Linked DNA regions of Homo sapiens. The protein of the gene in region 3 purifies or fractionates together with the protein of the main gene of each other region. This does not show direct contact. Each region holds a gene or a part of one and is shown on either strand. Other genes may lie near its edges.

Region 1 (3,646 bases), on a different chromosome or scaffold from region 3:
TCAGAGGCTGAGGCAAAAGAATTGCTTGAACCTGGGAAGTGGAGGTTGCAATGAGCTGAGATCGTGCCACTGCACTCCAGCCTGGGCAACACAGGGAGACCCTCTCTCAAAAAAAAAAAAAAGAGAAATAAATAAAAACAAAAAACTGATTGAGAAACACGGCTCTAGGCTCTCCCTCCAGGCTGGTGGACACAGCATAGGGAAGCCCAGAGAGACCATGGTAGTGACGGGGGACTAGGGATTGAATTATGGGCTTGGATACACAGCCCTCAAGGTCTTCGAGGTGGGGCCCACTCCTGGGTGCTGTGGCTTCTGGGACCCTCAGGGCCTCCAAGTCCTTCTGCACCCAGCATATCCTGGCAGTGGGGTCTCATCTCTGATAGCAGAGGCTCCTGTGGTGGCTCAGAGCTGTCACCACGTGTGGTTTCCAGATGGGTCACCTACGCATCTCCCCGGAGCCTGCTAGAAATGCAGCACCAAGCGGGTGCGGTGGCTCACTCCTGTTATCCCCGCACTTTGGGAGGCCGAGGCAGGTGGATCTCGAGCTCAGGAATTTAAGCCCAGCTGGGCAACATAGTGAAACCCTGTCTCTACAAAAAATGGCAAAAAAAAATTAGCTGGGCATGGTGGCATGTGCCTGTAGTCCCAGGTACTTGGGAGGCTGAGATGGGGGGAATCACCTAAGCCCGGGAAGTCAAGGCTGCAGTGAGCCGTGATCATGCCACTGCACTCCAGGCTGGGCAACAGAGTGAGACCCTGTCTCAAAAAAAAAAAAAAGAAAAAGAAATGCAGCACGCTGGGCCCACCCAGACCTGCTCTAGCAGAAGGCCTAGAGTGGTGCCCGTAGGCCTGTGTTTTAACATGCTCTGCTGGTGGTTCTGATGTGGGCTAAGTATACACAAATCACAGGTTAGCTGAGTACGTGGGGCATCTTGTTCAAATACAGATTGTCATCCAGCAGGTCTGGGGAGGGGCCTAAAATTCTGTGTTTCTAACAAGCTACAGCTGATGCTGGGGCTGCCCCCCTGGAACCACACTTTGAGACACGAGGCTACAGATCAGAAGTTGCAATGTGGCCACCCCATGGCTGACCACACCCCAGGGATGGCTCTAGTGTAGTTGGATTTGGCATAATGAGGCAGGTGTCACACTTGGTCTCCATACAAGCCCTGCTGGCTTCACACACCGAGCTTCCAGCCAGGTCTCTGTAGACTTCTGAGTTTGCAACCTCTAGTCTGGATGAGAATGCTCTGTTAACCAGAACCCTCAGCTAACAAGACACCCATTCCCTACGGGCCCTGATGGCTGCTAAGTTTACTGAACTTTTGGGGGGTTGGAACGTATCTTGAATGCATCCAGGTCTAAATTGCCTCCTTCATCCCATTTCCCAGATGAGAAGATCCAGGAAGATAAATGGCAACCATATTAGTCCAGGTTTTCTGGAGAAACAGAACCAATAGGATATCTATCTATGCAGAGAGAGAAATGTATTTTCAAGAATTAGCTCATGCGATTGTCGGGGCTGGAAAGTCCAAAATCTGTAGGGCAAGCCAGAAGGCTGGAAACCCAGGCAGGGTTTCTATGCTGCAGTCTTGGGGCTGAATTCCGTCTTTGAGAAACCTTAGTCTTTGCCCTGAAGGCCTCTGATCAATTGAATGAGGGCCACACATAATGGAGGGTAAGCTGCTGGACTCAAAAGTCTACTGATTTAATGTTAACTGCATCTAAAAACTACCTTTATTTGACCAAACAACTGGTCACCAAAGCCTTGCCAAGCTGACACATAAAATTAACCATCATAGCAATCTTTAGTTCCTAGGAGATCTGTCATGGGGCAGGAAAACAGGGTGTTAGGGCAGGAGCTCTGGGCTAGCCCTTCTTAAGTGTGGGAGCTCAGAGAGCCCACCCCCACCCTGTCAGCTGCAAGAGAAGGGTGAAGGTGGGTGTGGCCATGCTGATGGAGAGATAACCATAATAAAATGAGAATAATAATGCCTGTCCCAGGTCCTTGAAATTCTATAGCTTCACAACATCCCCAAATGAGGTGTTATCATCAGCACTCCCATTCTCCAGGTGAGTAAACCAAGGCTAGGAAGTTGAATCACTTACCCACATGGTTCTGGTCCTCTGGCTCCCAGCCCAATACCACTCTACCTATTGGGCCTCCACTAATGTGACTCTGGACAAGTCATTGGTCCTTCTGTGTCTCAGTTTAGTTTTCTCATCCAACACATGGAAATTACAAAATGCTTGACGCACTGCAGATACTGGCTCAAAATGAGAAAAACCTCTCCATGGCTTTCGGCTGTTCTCAGGACAACATCCAGGTTCCCTGATGAAGCTCTCAAAGTCCCCTCCCTCACACTTTTGGCTCTAGCTCTGCTGTTTGCCACACACAGTTTCAGCAAGTATTTTTCGTGCCTCCCTAATTCTGCATATGCTGTTCCATCTGCCTGGAATGCCCTTCCCCCTTCTTCACTTAGTGATTTCTTTCTTCAAACTCAGCTCAGTAAAACCAAATGCAGCCGGGCATGGTGACTCATGCCTGTAATCCCAGCACTTTTGGAGGCTGAGGTGGGCGGATCACTTGAGGTCAGGAGTTCGAGACCCAGCCAACATTGTGAAACCCCATCCCCACTAAAAACACAAAAACTAGGCAGGGCATGGTGGCTCACACCTGCAATCCCAGCACTTTGAGAGGCCGAGGCAGGTGGATCACAAGGTCAAGAGATCAAGACCATCCCGGCTAGCATGGTGAAACCCCATCTCTACTAAAAATACAAAAATTAGCTGGGCGTGGTGCACGCGCCTGTAGTCCCAGCTATTCGGGAGGCTGAGGCAGGAGAATCGCTTGAATCCAGGAGGCAGAGGTTGCAGTGAGCCGAGATCGCACCACTGCACTCCAGCCTGGCAACAGCAAAACTCCGTCTCAAAAAAAAAAAAAAAAAAAAATCAAAAATTAGCCGGACATGGTGGCGGATGCCTGTAATCCCAGCTACTCAGCAGGCTAAGGCAGGAGAATCACTTGAATGGGGGTGGGGTGTGGAAGTTGCAGCAAGCTGAGATCGCGCCACTGCACTCCAGCCAGGGCAACAGAATGAAACTGTCTTAAAAAAAAAAGCACTATGCACCCACCCCCACCCCCAGGACGGCCAAAATTTTAAAAAGCTGACCATACCATGTGTTGGCAATAATGCAGAGCAACTGGAACACACACAGGTTGCCAGAGGGAGTGGAAATTGGTGCAACCACTTAGGAGAAACATTAGTGCCCAACGAAAACACTCACGTATGTTCACCCAAAGATACACACAGGAATGTTCATGGCAGTGCTAATCCAAATAATCCCAACTGGAACTCCCCACCCAAACCCCCATGATTGGAAGAAGGGAGACATAACTGGTGAATGAACACACAGCAGACCACATACAGCCAACTTGAAGGAAGAACACAGGTAGCAATAACACGGATGGGTCTCACACGTGCTGTGTGAAGGGGGCCAGAGAGAAAGGAGTATGTCATCCTATATGATTTCACTTAGGTGCCCTTAAACATGGACAAAACAAATCTATGCTGCTGGAAGTCAGGATAGCAGTAGGACACGTGGACGGGTGTTACTGACAAGAAGGGGACACCGGGGGCTTTGG
Region 2 (3,646 bases), on a different chromosome or scaffold from region 3:
GTATTTACCTAAATGATAGGACTCTGACAGAAAGATGGGTGTTTTTTTCTTCTTACCAAATAAAAAAAAAAAACAGTTTAATTACATTATTTTCAAATGTTTAAGTGCTTATGATGGACACTCCACATGTGATTGGATTCTAGGGGTTAGTAAAAGAGTACACAGTGCAATTTTCCTGGTGTTTTTATATGTGCTCATATCAAGATGCTACAAGAACCCAAAACAAACTGCCCATAACAGTTGGCAATGGTTGTGTGTTGTATGCTTTCATCCTCAATCAAAGCCATACAAGTCTCTTCAGAGGTGCAAGGACATGAACAAATACACATACATCACTTACTACAACAGACTGAAGTTGTTTCATAAAGGAGTTATGTTTTGCATATAAGAGAGAGGAATATAAATCACTTGTGAGAAGGGCAAGGGTATGGCTTGTGAAATTCAAAAATAAAGCAACCCAATGTAAGTAATATCAACCTAAGAAATCTGGCATGAGAAATGTAAGGGCAGGAAGTCCTCTTGGTGTGGAGATGCCTGCAGACCACGGAGGTCTCTTATTCTCATTTTGTTTGGTTTCCCTTTTTTGCTCCAGCCCAACAGAGTGCTATGGCAGGGTGTCCCCAGGCCTGGCTGTCCACCATTGGCAGTGATGCTCATGGTGGAAGGCAGCACGTTCCTAGAGCTTCTTGGGCAATGGATATACTTGTGTTGGAAACAACCCCGCCATGGGATTCTGCTCCATCCTCAAGGGCTTGCCTTTGCCACCTTTGAGGATCCGGGGGATGTGTCTGTTCTCCTCCCCCACGCAGTATTTCAAGTCCACTGGAAATACAAATGGCCTCATTTCATTCTCTGGGGGAAGGAATGGAATATCTGAGCCATGGTTTATTCGATTGGCTTTTAGGTGTTGGTGAGAACAGATGCGAAGTCCTAGTCTCTGGTCTCGACTAAAGATTCTCTGAATAGAGCTTCATGGGAGCACTCAGTGTTTTTTGTGTTTTCTGATGCTCATAGACATTATTTCTTTAGAAAGGGAGACAAGAGGCAAGTGGGAAGGATAAAAAAGTAGACAGCAGAAGCGCCAAGCAAAGAGAGGGTAGGCTCTGAGGCCCAGTCTGCTCTCCCCCTGGCTACTTGCCACACCACAGAACCAGTCCTGAGACAGCAAGGACACAAATGCATATGAGCAGAAAGCGGAAAAATGCTGCCAGGCCATCCACAAGCAGCCTTCTCTCTGTGCAAGAGTTTTCAGCTCTTTAGGTCCAGAGGAAACCACTACACTAGAACAAAGCAGTGGGTAATCTCACCAATTTTACACAGCAATTCACAGTCCCTAAAGTACTTTAATGCAATGACAGGTTATGAGAAAAAATATCTGTTCCAATGAAGGGAAAGTGTTTTACATAATTGAGAAGAACATCAGTGCAACATTGGTGGAGGTGGGGGGTGAAGACAGAAAAGGAAGTAGGAAGAGAAGAAAACTTCTGTAATCCCACAGAGAGCCATATTCTACTCTGCAAAAAGCCATCTCCTGGAGACCCCATGTCTAAGTAACTGAAAATTGCAAACCATTAATCCCAGTTATGAACAGTTGTTTTACACGAGGGGGGTTTGTGTTAAAAAAAAATCAAATCCACAACATACCTTAAAGCTGAAAAGAAGATCCATCTAGGTATGATACCTTAATAGCGAGGTTTCAAAAACACTTTCTTTACTGTAAAGGGCCCCATCTGGAAGGAGTGTGCTGTATGTATTTTTTTTCTCTATAAATGTGAAATTAAACTTAGAAAGCTAAAAAACAGACGAGGGCCTTAAAAATTCCCTTCTAGCACTATGTATTTCTTTTTAAATATGAGATGCCTTTCATTTTACAAGACTGGAATTCTCATTTTGGGCTTGGCACTCTAACAAATGATTAATTCAGCCTCCTTTTTTTCTGAGAGCTGACCACATTTGCTGGTCAAACAGTTTAATCCTATTTAAAATGCAATCCAAGAAAAATATTTTTAAGTAAAAATAAAAATCCATGATCCTTTGAAACTGTTCACCTTGGCTAAAGACATTCCATTTTCCTGCAATCTTGATGTAAATTTGAATTTTTGCACCTACATCAATGATGAAATTCAGCTTTGGAGGAAAGCCAGGGGGAACCTATCTTCCTAGAGTTGAAAAATTAAATTCCCAACCCCAAAACTTATGCCCAGAGATTGCCTTCACTTTTCTAATTCTTTGGCAGAGACCGTGTCTCGTCTGTGCTTTGTAACACTCTGTTGGCATCGGCAAAATGTTACGTATCAGTGGTCATAAAAACAAAAATGGCATTTGAATGGAAGTTTTGTGAAATCTGTTGATTCAAAGATGTTAATCATTTTTACCATGACTTGTTTATTTATAGCCTTTTGTTTCAAACAAATTCTGACAAGCTTTTAAAACTAAGTAAAAGAGCCAGCACGCTATTTTAAAAAGGAATGAAAAAAAATAACAAGCTTTCCACCACTAATTCACTATGCCATTAGAAACCCGAATTTAAACTGCAGTTGTATTTAATTTAAATGAGATGTTTTCTAACTAGATGAAATAGTAGGCAATTGTGGCTCAGAAACAATGCAAGGTGGGAAGAAATAAAGAAATATAAAGATTAAATGTGGCTGTTTCTTTCAACAGATGGTGACAGCACCATGGCAGCATGTTGTTTTTTCTTTAGTTGAAGAACACAAACATCCGTAATCAATCATCACTGATTAACTAATTATATTACCCTTCCTTTTATCACTTGGGTTGGACCTTTATCCATAAACACTGAGGATAATCGGTATGCTCTTATTTTTCTGGAAGTATATTCTAGTTCACATACAGTCGTGCAGTTACAGGCTGCAAACAGAATTCTACATTACCGTCCACCTTTAAGCACTATTGCTTTTTTTCATTTTTAATTTTTTTTTTTAAACAAAAGCAATTGGTTTCCCACAGGCTGGATAATAAGTCTTTTGACCTGCATTCTTCTTTGACCCATTAAGGTCACCCCTGTGCTCGGGCATATAGCTGACTTAGGAAATGCCTGCAAGTCCTACATTTCATCTCCTGCCCACTCAAAATAAAGCTTTCTTTAAATGTGTCTGTACGGGTCCCTGAAGGCCAAAGAGGCATCCCTGTAGTGGGCAATGGAGGGACAGAAGCTTCTGCCTTTATTAATGAATGCAGACCATTATGAGTCTGGCTGGCTCCTTCCCCGTTCCCAGAAGCATATACTGTACGTGACTTAAAATGCTAGAATATTGACACAAAGCGAGCTGGGCACCCCTAAGGAAAATTACTCCTTGGATATAATGTAGGCTCCTAACAGCTATTAGAGTACAAAATAAAACCCTCCGGGATCAGACTGACATATACCGCATTCTACCTAGTCCTCAAACATTAGAAGAATTTCTTTGTGAAGGCATTCTCAAGGACAGCATTAAACTGACTTTTGTAGCAATCTGCAACAGCTTTTTGGCTTAGAGCTTTTAGTACTAAATCTCTGGTTCGAATCAATATAAGTACTATATCTTCTACATTAATCAATATATTTGGTTCAATACATATTCTATTAAATTATACTTTCTAATCAAGATTTTTACATTTCCATCCTCTCTCCTTTTCATTCCCA
Region 3 (4,302 bases):
TACCTATAATTCTAATTCTCTCCAAGAGGCTTTGCAAATAGACCGTTCTGACCACAGTCTCTCACTCAGATGCTAGCCCAACTGAAGGCTGGTTCACCTGAGGGATACCTCCTGGGCAGCTGGGCTCTTTCAAATGCAGGATCTTCCCTGTATTAGCTTAAATCCCCTAAAATCACGAAACAATTTCGTGAAACTGGCATATTTCTCGAAGCAGAGGAGAAAATAAAACCACCCTAAATCTTACCAAATATAATTAACTTTAAAACTCATCAGACAAGCGACAACTTTCCATATGGCTGGGCTTGAGTGGAATTCGAATCCCAGGGAAAAACATCTCCACAATTTCCTGTAACCCTCAAGAGAGAAGCAGCAAGTCTAGGAAAACAAAAGCAAGAACGATGAAGAAAGAGGCACAAGAAGCATAGTCAAAAAGAAGAGAAGGCCCCTGATGGATCTGGATTCCACATTCTAGAATGACTGCCCCAGGACAGACCAGAAGCTGGGAAAAGCCTAAATAAAGAGCCTCCAAACTCAAAGCAGCCAGGCATAGCCAAGGTGCCCCCCGTCCCTGTGGAGTCAGGCCCAGGTAGCCACACCGTGAGCTTCCCCCTAAACAAGCAACTGCAAAGCCGTTCCCAGGCCCCAGGGAGGGCCTGTCCCCAGACACAGGGAAACCCAGCCAAGGGAACTCCCAGCAAGGTAAGGAAATGGGCGGAGAGAAAGCTGGCAGGTGAGGTGGCTGGAACAAACTGGTCTCATCAGGGAGGCCTGTGACAAACCCGCCTATTCCTCCGCTTTCCCCGCTGTATATTTTGGATTTCACAGTTTATTTACTTTACTTTTTGGCACCGAGCCCCCTGAGCATGCCAATACAATATTTGTTTAAACACTATTTTATGCTGCTTGCGAGGGAAACGTTTACTTTCAAATTCTCCTACATCCCCCAGAGCCTCGTCTGCAAACAGCCTATGAGCGTTTTACAACTGCTCCCTTTATCTGAAGCTGTCGGGATTAAACCTTCACACGCCCGGCAAGAGCGGCGGAGAGGGGGCCCGGGACACCGCTGCGGCCACCGAGCTGCAAAGCCCGTGCCAGAGGTCGCGCACCGAGCGGGATGCCCGGGCTGGGGGACAGAGGGACGCCTACAAGACTCCCAGGGCGCGGGACCAGACAGTAGGGACAGGTCTACTTTTCCAGCTGGGATCAACTCTAGGAGCCACAGAACAATTACACAAAAGAGAAGGTAGTGGAAAGAGGCACCCTCGGGGGGGCTCGAGGTCCCCGAGAGCCTCAGCGACCGATCACCCAGGGTGAGGCGCACGGGCTCCATCCCCAGCTCCCCGCGCGGTAAAAGTCGGGTTTCCTAGGAAATGACAGCAGTTACCGCCGGGCTGAAAAGGCGCCGAGCTGGGTGGACTCCCAGCTCTCCAGCGCGGCGGGCGCGCTCACACTCACACACGCAAGCACACGCTCCCTCCCAGCTCCCCGCCCCCGCCCCGTCCGGGGAAAAGACTCCCCTCTCTAAACCCTTAATAGGATTGGCGCCCAACTCTCTCCGCGCCTCTCCCCATCCATCACATACAGATCAAGTTGCAGTAGTGGATTTTTCAAATTCCTCAGCAAATATACTTGTTGAGAGATTGTCGGGGGTGGGGAGAGACGATGAGTAGGGGGGCAGGGATGAAAGTGAGGTGGAAGGGGGAACCGGAGGACCCGGCAAAGGATTACGTGCGGATCCCTTTGGGAAGTCAAGCGGATCTCAGGGCCGAGGGCAGGAGAGGAGGAGAAGAGAGGCAAAGAGGGGGGGCCGAGGAGGAGAGCCCAGCAGAGGGGGAGGGGGCGGCCGGGCCGGGCGAGGGGGAGGAAGGATTGAGGAAGGAAGAAAGAAAGGCAGGGCTCCGGGACGCGCAGCGCGGAGAAGTGGAGTTCGAAGTTCTCAAGTGGCTGGCTGCAGCCCCTCCGCGCTCAGTACGCCCGCAGACACGCTCCCATGCCCACCTACGGCAGCTTCGGAGCATCCCAGCCTCCGATCCCACCCTCCACCCCCTGAAAAAACAGACCCCCGCCGGCGCGCGGAGGCCGGCTCGCTGTGCACCCCGAGAAGAGTGGTGCTCTCCCCCAGGTAGGGAGAGGGTGCAACATCGACCTCTGGCCACGAGCTCCAAGCCCCAGGACTCTCCTTACGTCCCCGCCCTGCTCGTCCAGAGCCCCAGGCGGGGTCGCGCCTACTAGCCTCTAGTCCCCCGAAGCCCAGGGCCCCGATCCCAAGGCCTAGGCGCCGGTACCCGGCCGAGGGACCCCCCGAGACGGCGCAGCATCCCAGTCGGCCCGCGCTTGGCCGAGGTGGGAGGCGCTTCGTCACGAAAAGCAAGCAAAAGAAGGCCAATGCAACTTTACCGAGAGAGACAAAAGTTTGCCTCTAGCACGCAGGTGGCCTCTCGGGCGCCGGGCGGTGGCTGTGGGCCCCCATCCCACCTTGGCTGGCGCGGCGACCCTCGGCTGGCTGCCTTGTGCCGGGGCTCCAGCCAGCCGGGGCGGGGCGGGCCAGGCAAGAGAGGGGACCGAGAGGCGGGCGGGCGCCGCGCAGCCCCTACCGCCGGCGAGCAGGCGGCTCCCCGAGGCTGCGGCGCGCCGCGCGGCCCAAGCTCTTTCCTCCGGCTCCTCCTGCGGCTCCTGGCCTTCCTCCGCGTTCGCAGTCGCAGCCGCCGCCGCCGCCCGCTCCTCCTCGAAGTCTCATTGATGGGAGTTTGAAAAAAAGTCCGCGGAGCCGTGCTGCCTCGGCTGGCAAGCGCCGGCACTTCTGCAATCCATCAGCGCCGCCGGACTGCGCAGCGCCCCCGCGCGCACGGTGCGGGCACACCCGGGCCCCAAGAACCCGCCAGCCAGCCCGCCCGCTCCCTGCCGGGGGACGCAGGGGGACCCGAACGCCGCCGGGGCGGGGGGAGGGGAAAGGGGGAGCACAGGGACTCTCCCCACCCAGCACCAAGGAAAGAAAACGCACCTACAAGGAAAGTTCGAGAAAGGAACCAAAGGACGCGCCAATCTCCGACACTTTTTTTAGACGACTAGGTGTGGGGGGGGGGGTTGGGGGTGTCGCTAACTCAAGTCAGATGAGCTCCGGAGCTGAGGGGCAAGGGCTGCTCTGTTTTCAATCTCTGAAATCCCCCCGCCCTCCCCACCTCCCACTTCCCTCCTCGGGGAGATGCCTGGGTCGCTGTTCCCAGGGCGCCCGCTTCTCTGGACGCCCGCGCGGAAGCCGGGGACGCCAGAGAAGGGACGCGGGGGCTGGGTCCACGCGGACCCTCTTCCCGCGGGCAGCGAGCGCAGGTGCCGGGGGTCCTGAGGCGTCCCCCGCCGCCGCTAGCCCTCGTCGCCATCTGAGCACACGCTGGCGAGAAACGAAGCAGCCTTCTAGGTTTGGTGCATGTGGCTTGCAGGGTGGGTTTTTGTTTTGTTGTGTTGTGTGTTTTAGAGACTCCACTCGAGCCGCTGAAGCCAGATGGAAGTAATCAGAACCCAACAACAACAGAGAAAGAAGGAAGAAAAAACTCCTCATTGAATTTTCTAGCCAAAGTGTATATGGGGCTGTGTGTGAAAGAACTTGCTTAAGCAAGCTCAGTGAGGAGCCCTGGGCCCTCAAGCCACACCACAGCCCGGAACTGGGCCGCCAGGCTTGGAGGAGAATTGGGGGCAGCTGGCTAAAGTGTCCTCCCCACACCCCCGGGCCTGCCACCCTCTCCAGGGCCCCTGGGCCTCACCCGAAGAGGGTCTTGGGGGGAATTTCTGGTTTTATTCTTCCTAACGTTTGTAGAACACTCTACCAAGTGCCAGGTGATGTTATATTTTCTTTGTATTATTGGACTTTCACAGCTCTGTAAGGAAGGTTCTCTTCTCGTGTTTTTACAGGTGGGAAGTCTGATGCTTTAAAAAGTTAAGTAACTAGTCTAAGGTCAGAGCACTCTGCCATCCTCCCAGAGCTTCGGGTGGTTGTACTGTAAGTTCAGTTAAATTTGCCCTGTTGGGCCGGGCGCGGTGGCTCACGCTTGTAATCCTAGCACTTTGGGAGGCCGAGGCACGGGGATCACCTGAGGTCAGGAGTTCAAGACCAGCCTGGCCAACATGGTGAAACCCCGTCTCTACTAAAAATACAAAAAATTAGCCAGGGATAGTAGCGCGCGCCTGTAATCCCGGCTACTTGGGAGACTGAGGCTGGAGAATCTCTCAAACCCCTTGGGAGATGGAGGTTGCAGTGAGCCATGATGGCGCCACTGCACTCCAGCCTGGGTGATGGAGCGAGACTCT

What was found.
Region 1: the proteins of GLI2 (region 3) and CPNE2 purify together in Homo sapiens (co-immunoprecipitation; one large-scale study listed by IntAct). This does not show direct contact.
Region 2: the proteins of GLI2 (region 3) and ZNF521 purify together in Homo sapiens (affinity purification with western blotting, with the first as the bait; one study listed by BioGRID). This does not show direct contact.

Annotation. Positions count from the first base shown.
Region 1 is NC_000016.10:57,099,082-57,102,727, reverse strand, and holds part of CPNE2 (copine-2), read right to left. Parts: intron 1-3,646.
Region 2 is NC_000018.10:25,065,576-25,069,221, forward strand, and holds part of ZNF521 (zinc finger protein 521), read right to left. Parts: intron 1-3,646. UniProt on the Homo sapiens protein: Transcription factor that can both act as an activator or a repressor depending on the context. Involved in BMP signaling and in the regulation of the immature compartment of the hematopoietic system.
Region 3 is NC_000002.12:120,734,381-120,738,682, reverse strand, and holds the start of GLI2 (zinc finger protein GLI2), read right to left. Parts: upstream 2,816-4,302; 5' UTR 2,398-2,815; intron 2,123-2,397; exon of another isoform or gene 1,022-2,122; intron 1-1,021. UniProt on the Homo sapiens protein: Functions as a transcription regulator in the hedgehog (Hh) pathway. Functions as a transcriptional activator. May also function as transcriptional repressor. Requires STK36 for full transcriptional activator activity.